2 linked regions of the Homo sapiens genome follow. The protein of the gene in region 2 purifies or fractionates together with the protein of the main gene of each other region. This does not show direct contact. Each region holds a gene or a part of one and is shown on either strand. Other genes may lie near its edges.

Region 1 (3,820 bases), on a different chromosome or scaffold from region 2:
ATGGGATCTCACTATGCTGCCCAAGTTGGTCTTAAATGCCTGACCTCAAGCGATACTCCCACTTTGGCCTCCCAAAGAACCAGAAATTCTTTCTGTAACTTTCATCCACAGATAGCCTTGCCTCTTGATCATCAAAACATAATATAAGGTCTTAGTCTTCCCTAGTTTTACCATCCCCATTCCTTTCACCCTTCATCTTACATTGAGGTTACCATGTTTTAACTCTTGCATTCACCCTTCTCAGGGAGTATTCATTCCAGGCACTCAGTCCAAAGTTGTACCTGTCTGTCAGCAGCCAGGATGGTCTGATACTTTCTATTTGACAGAAAACGATTTGGGGTACAAACAAGGGCTGAGTAGCAGCAAGACCTAGGGTGGGGGCAGGATAGGTGGGAGGTAGCGAACTGAAGTGAGCCTTGTTTACTCATAGGCTACGGCTTTCTCCTCATCCCCAGTCCTGACACCTGTGAATTCCTCTTCTGGCCAAGCCCTAGAAATCTCCCCTCTCCGTGCACCCTCACTTTATTCAACTCTGGCCCCATTCTCTTCCTCATGCTGCAAGAAGCTCCCAGCTACTCAACACAACAAGCCCACGCAGCGGCCTATGCCGTGGCCGTAGGTTGTATCCACTTCATGTTTCCTTGTTGGGCTTCTGTTTGAGCACAGACATGTTTCCACGCAGCATTTCTGTGGCGTTAAGTGCTCCCACCAACTACATTCCTGTGCCTCCCATCTTTTACTTCTGGTAACAATACTTTTGGTAAGGAAGTGTGTTGTGGAAGTTGACTTTTATTAAATTACTTTAATTATTTCAATAAGAATGCCTCACTACTAAATTACTTTAATATTTCAATAAGAATGTTTAGCTTATTTTTATTCTTACCATTGCTCTAACTAGAGAGTTACATTACTTTTATATGGTAAAGATAGAGGAAGGGGGAAAATATGAAACAATGGCTATTCTGTTTTTTGGATTCTTATTTAAAGTTGGGTTCTCTCAGATATCTATGCCTGAAGTCCTATTTACTGAACCCAACCTACTCTGTATAAGATACACTATTTTTCTAGGAGCAGCCTTGGAGGAAGAAAGGAAATATCTGGTAGATACAGTACAAGTTGGTTCTGTTCCTATACCTAGTCTTGCAACTTTTATTTTTTTATTTTTTATTTTTTTTTTTTGAGACAGAGTCTCACTGTCACCCAGGCTGGAGTGCAGTGGCGTAATCATAGCTCACTGCAGCCTCGACCTCCTGGGCTCAAGCGATCCTCCTGCCTCAGCCTTGCAGAGTGCTGGGATTACAGGTGTGAGCCACTGTACCCAGCCAGCTTTTATCTTTTTTAGTGATTAAAAAAAAATAGTAGAACAGCAGTCCTGTTGAGGAATAGAATCTTTGAATCTTTGACCTTGGTGTTACGGACAAATACACTGAACCAGAGCTTTCCTCATTTTTTTGAAGATAAGACTCAGGGGAAAAAAATTGCAGAACAGTGATTCCAAGTGGTGTTCTTTTTATACACATGATGACAAAGCACATATTATTAATTTATTCACTGATCTATGTTAAAGAGGCTGAAATAATACTAGCATAAATATCAAGGCAGCAAGTTTGGCAAAATAATTTGCTGAATATTGAAAGCTCTTTTCAAAAAGTATCTTTTTTGTCACATCCAGGTCATGATAAAACGTGTAAGTTTTTCTTCCTATATTGTATAAAAAGTAAACTGGCAACCTTACTTTTTGAAGAAGGGGGAAAGGAAAGTATGAATTAGGGACAGGAAAAGAGGAAGGCTCTAAATTCAGAAATATAGGCCCATATAAAACCACAAGATAGAAACATCCAGAGAAAGTTCAAAGACCTTTTTTCTAGTAAAGTTAATCCTTTCATAAAGTAGGTTTTTATTTTTACTTTTAGAAATGAGATCTCCCTATGTTGCCCCAGCTGAGCTCAAGTGATCCTCCAACCTCTGCTTCCCAAAATGCTGGGATTGCAGGTGTGAGCCACTGTGCCCGGCCAAAGTAGATTTAATTTTTTTTAAAAAATCATCACTTGCAGGTATTGGATAATCAGGTTAAGTTTTCTTGGGTTAGACGTGCAATTGACTGTGCAGCAGATAATGTCTGAAAGAAGACCGTGGTCACTGGGGAAGGAGGGGATGCTCCAGCACCCTACCAAAGTGAGTGCTATCATTGAATAAATAGATCTTAGCAATGCTAATGTCCAAAAAGTGCAAAAAAAAAAAAAGAAAAGTATTGTGTTTTAGCAATTTAAATACATTATGAAAAAAGCTTAAAAGAAATTATAATTACTTACTAATAAGATCTTTCAGAAATGACAAAAACCAAAAACGGCAGTTAAACAGAGGAATGAGAAAGAATTAGAAAATAGGCAAAGAGAGGGAAAGGATTCAGGGATCAATAGCACCTTTATTTGTTAATAATTGCTCTACAAAACTAAGAGATATAATATAAAACAATTCTGAAAATGGGGAGAGGAAAGCTATTGAGAGCATACCTGACCATAAAAACTGAAGGAATAGATGGCTAAATATGATATCAAGGGTTATTAAAATAATGAGAAAACCATAATTTCCATTAATTGCATGTATACCATATACTAGGCACTGTGCTCACGTATGCACTTTCACAGCACTGGTATTATTGCCAGTGAGAACAGTGAGGTCAGAGAGACACAGTGCCTTGCCCAAGTAGCTAATAACAGATCTGCTCATAGATCTCTCTAGTAGGGGTCTTTACCCTGAATCATGCTACTTCCCTGTTGAAATATCTCTTATTTGGAAGTGAGATGTATCAATGAAGTCAAATACTATGCAAACTTGATAACTTTGGGGCTATCAGTTTTGTGACATTGAATGGAAAAGATTTGAAATTTTTTATTTATGCATCTGGAAATGCCACAGTCTGAGAAAAAGTGATTTGTTAAAGTTACCGAGAGGTGGAGGGAGAGTTCAAACTCCTATCAATCTAATTCTAAAACCTTGCTTTTTAACATTAGAACTGTAGTGGGGTCATTTTTGTTTTTAATTTGGGGCAAAAGTAACAGTGAAAAGGTAAATGACTTATTTGAGGTCAACATGGATCTGAAAAATCAAGAAGCAAAATAGAAGGTCTGTGAATAGAGAAACTTAAGTCTATTTTTTTGGACTAGAAGATTGAAAACTTTAAAAAGTAAAATAATTCTTTAAGATTTCCTACCTTCTTATGTTTCCACTTTTCATAATTAGGTGATGCTGCTATATATGCTTTCAGCAATTTGGTTAATAGTTAAATGTTTTTGAATTTTAATTTAAGGAAAACTTTAAATTAAAAATTTTTTGACATTCTACTCAAGTAGTGAAATGATTGGATTCAACCACCAAATTATTGATTTTCAACATTTACAGAGTTGTGATGCCTTATTTTACTTTGATTTTTGTGACATTTCTGCTCTAACTTACCCTTCAGTATTGTATGGTAGATACTTAACATTTAAAACAGCTTTGAGAGTTTATAAAACAACAGTTAGAATCCTACAAAACTAAAACTGAGCATTGTTGCGTGGAGCAAAATTGCCTTTTTTGTGTAAAAGCAATTTTTTTTTTTTTTTTTTTTTTTTTTTTTGAGATAGAGCCTTGCTCTGTTGTCCAGGCTGGAGTGCAGTGGTGCGATCTTGGCTCACAGTAACCTCTGCCTCTACGGTTCGAGCAATTCTCCTGCCTCAACCTCCCAGGTAGCTGTGATTACAGATGCACGCCACCATGCCTGGCTAATTTTTGCATTTTTAGTAGAGATGGGGTTTTGCCATGTTGACCAGGCTGGTCT
Region 2 (3,820 bases):
GGCCAGCCCATTAGTAATGACTATACTTGCCTTGGTTTTTGGACCATGTTTGTTAAACTCTTAACCAAATTCATTTCCTGTCACCTAGAGACCATCAAGCTTCAGATGATCATGTGACAATGTTTCCAGCCAGTTCCAGGTGGAGACACCACCCCTGGCCATCAAGAAGCTATCCTGTCTCCACTAGACAGGGCGGGGAGAGAGTCCTGTGATTCCCCAGTACGTAGGGACTGTGCCTCAGGTCAGCATAAAGCAGTTACAGAAGAAAGACTATCAATCCCTTTACCTCCCATAAAGATTTATGAGGATCATGTCTTTCGGGGGGAAATGAGGTATGAGAACAGGGTATGGAGGCAAGAAACCTAAGGGTGATTAATGCTGACTTCCTGGAACTGAATCAAAAGGAAAACCCAAACTTTCCATGCCCCAAATAACAAAAGGATCAGAGGCAACCCCCGCCTTCTGTGTCGCAGATGAAAAATGGAAAGTACCTCTTCCTGCAACCAATGAGACTGGTCACTGGCCTAGTTTTCATCTGCATAGAGGTGTAACTTTGTAACTTCACTTCAGCCTCTGTTGGTCACCTTCCCCAACCAATCAGACTAGTTATGGGCCACTACTTCATTTACAGAGGATATAAACCAAGTAACCAATGGGAAACCTCTCGGGATTTAAACCCCAGAAAATTCTGTAACCAGTGCTCTTGAGCTGCTTGCTCCAGACCACTCCCATTGTGTGGAGTGTACTTTCATTTTGATAAATCTATGCTTTTTTTGCTTCATTCTTTCATTGTTTTATGCATTTTGTCCAATTCTTTGTTCAAAATGCCAAGAACCTGCACATCCTCCACCAGTAACACCAGGGGCTGGGGATGAGGGAGGGATGAATGGGTAGAGCACAGAGAATATTTAGGGTAGTGGAACTACTCTGTCTGATACTATAATGGTGGATACATGACATTGTACATTTGTCCAAATGCACAGAATATACAACATCAGGAGTGAAGCCTGGCCAGGTGCAGTGGCTCATACATGTAATCCCAGCACTTTGGGAGGCTGAGGTGGGAGGATCACTTGAGCCCAGGAGTTCAAGACAAGCCTGGGCAACACAGTGACACTCCATCTCTACAAAAAATTTTTACATTAGCCAGGCATGGTGGTGCATGCTGTGGCACCTGAGGCTGGGGTGCAGAGAGGTGGGAGGATCACTTAAGCCCAGAAGGCTTAAGCTATGACTGCATCACTGTCTCAAAAAAAAAAAAAAAAAAAGAAAAAAAAAAGCATGAACCCTATCATAAACTATGGACTTTGGGTGATAATGATGCCTCAAGGGCAAGGGGTAGTGGCTCACGCCTGTAATCCCAGCACTTTGGGAGGCTGAGGGGGGCGCATCATGAGGTCAGGAGATCGAGACCATCCTGGCCAACATGGTGAAACTCTGACTCTACTAAAAATACAAAAATTAGCTGGGCGTGGTGGTGCGTGCCTGTAGTCCCAGTTAGTTGGGAGGTTGAGGCAGGAAAATCACTTGAACCTGGGGGGCGGAGGTTGCAGTGAGCTGAGATCACACCACTGTACGCCAGCCTGGTGACAGAGTGAGACTCTGTCTGGGAAAAAAAAAAAGGATGCCTCAAGATAGGTTTGCCGATTGTAACAGATGTACAATACAAATCCAAGTTGTTAACAGCAGGAGACACTGCATGTGTCTGTAGGACAGCAGACATGGGTGGGAACTCTGCACTTTCTCGTCAACTTACCTATAAACCTAAAACTGCTCTAAAAAATAAAGTCTATTAGCCTGGGCAACATGATGAAACCCTATCTCCATTAAAAATACAAAAATTAATGGCCAGGTGCAGTGGCTCATACCTGTAATCCCGGCACTTTGGGAGGCTGAGGCAGGTGGATCACCTGAGGTCGGGAGTTCGAGACCAGCCTGACCAACATGGAGAAACCCCACCTCTAATAAAAATACAAAATTAGGGCCAGGCGTGATGGCTCACACCTGTAATCTCAGCACTTTGGGAGGCTGAGGCGGGCGGATCATGAGGTCAGGAGATCAAGACCATCCTGGCTAACACGGTGAAACTCTGTCTCCACTAAAAATACAAAAAATTAGCCGGGCATGGTGGACATGCCTGTAATCCCAGCTACTTGGGAGGCTGAGGCAGGAGAATCACTTGAACCTGGGAGGTGGAGGTTGTGGTGAGCCGAGATTGTGCCATTGCACTCCAGTCTGGGCAACAAGAGCGAAACTCCGTCTTAAAAAACAAAAACAAAAACAAAAGAATTAGCCAGGTGTGGCAGTGTGCACCTGTAGTCCAAGCTACTAGGGAGGCTGACGCATGAGAATTGCTTGAGCCAGGGAGATGGGGGCTATAGTGAGCCAAGACAGCGCCACTGCACTTCAGCCTGGGCAACAGAGTAAAACCCTATCTCAAAATAAATAAATAAATACATACATTAATTAAAAAAAAACAAATCAAGTAAAGAGGCCTAAATGGTTGGGATGATGAACATGTTCTAGAACTGATTGTGGTGAGGGTTCCACACTCAGGGAAGACACTGGAAGCCATGAACTGCATACTTCGAATTGGTGAACTCCTTTGAATGGGTGAACTGCTGCAAAGAGCACCCAAGGAGGCTTCCTCCAAACAAGGCTCCCTCCTTGGCCCCTGGGGCCCTGCGGAGAGCTCTCTGTCCAAGCTTGTTAAACGTTGAGCTGCTCACCACAAGGTCTGCTCTTACCTCGGGGGGCCTCCTGCTCTGCCCTGCACAGGTCCTCTTCTTGCTCCAGCTGAGAGATCACATCAGATTTGGAAAGGAAAAGCCCTGGTCAAAGACGGAAAAAGGACTTGCCCCTCTGCTTGGACACCAAGAACCATGTCCTGGGTCCAAGCTTCAGCCCCTAGTGCTGTCCCGAGGAAACTCCCCACTGTTAGGACTACAAGTCACAAACCTGTCCCAGAGATAGAATGAAGGGCAACCCCTGGGAACTGCACCTGAAAGGGACCTGCTTCCAGTATCTTCCAGCACATCCCAGAACACCCTTCAGAACTTGGTACAGCTTTGAGTCCTAGGGGTAGAACCTCCTTCCATGAGCACAGCCACTTACCCAGGGAGACAATATGCTCCCAGGTCTCCAGTGTCACCTCTCGGTACAGTGTCCTCTGGGCCAGGTCCAGCTGTTCCCACTCCTCCTGTGTGAATGCCATAGCCACATCCTCGAAGCACACAGATGCCTGAAACAGGGCACTTGTTACTGCTCAGAGACCCCAGGTCCTCATGCCCTCACGGAGGTACCTGTTAAGGCCTAAATGTTGGTGTCCCCCCGTAAAATTCATACATTGGAACCTAATACCCAGTGAGATAGTGTTAAGAGGTGGGGTCTTTACAAGGCAATTAATGTCCTCATAAAAGAGGCTTGAGGGAGCCTGTGTTCACCTTCTACCATATGAGGACATGTAAGAGGTGCCATCTATGAGACAGCAGGCCCCAACCAGACCAACTCTGTTGACACATTGATCTTGGACTTACCAGCCTCCAGAACTATGAGCAGTCAATTCTGTTGTTTGTAAATTGCTCACTCTAAGGTATCTTATTATAGCAACCCAAACGGACTGGGACAGCTCCATGTATGTGGTCTGTACCATTCCTTTTCTGGGCATCTCACCTCTTGCCAGTCACAGCAGTGGTCCTGATTTCTAGACTGGAAATGACAGGAACTCCACTAGGAGATCCTCACCCACTTCCTCTCTACAAAAATCACAGATTCGAAATGAGGTAAGAAAGACACTCTAAATCGGGGTGGGAAAACTGCA

The links.
Region 1: the proteins of ZNF544 (region 2) and MAP3K20 purify together in Homo sapiens (affinity purification with mass spectrometry; 2 studies listed by BioGRID and IntAct, with this or other methods). This does not show direct contact.

The regions. Positions count from the first base shown.
Region 1 is NC_000002.12:173,082,195-173,086,014, forward strand, and holds part of MAP3K20 (mitogen-activated protein kinase kinase kinase 20), read left to right. Parts: intron 1-3,820. UniProt on the Homo sapiens protein: Stress-activated component of a protein kinase signal transduction cascade that promotes programmed cell death in response to various stress, such as ribosomal stress, osmotic shock and ionizing radiation.
Region 2 is NC_000019.10:58,245,722-58,249,541, reverse strand, and holds part of ZNF544 (zinc finger protein 544), read right to left. Parts: intron 3,756-3,820; exon of another isoform or gene 3,673-3,755; intron 3,242-3,672; coding exon 3,115-3,241; intron 2,832-3,114; coding exon 2,748-2,831; coding exon of another isoform or gene 2,710-2,747; exon of another isoform or gene 2,501-2,709; intron 2,261-2,500; coding exon of another isoform or gene 2,115-2,260; exon of another isoform or gene 1-2,114. UniProt on the Homo sapiens protein: May be involved in transcriptional regulation.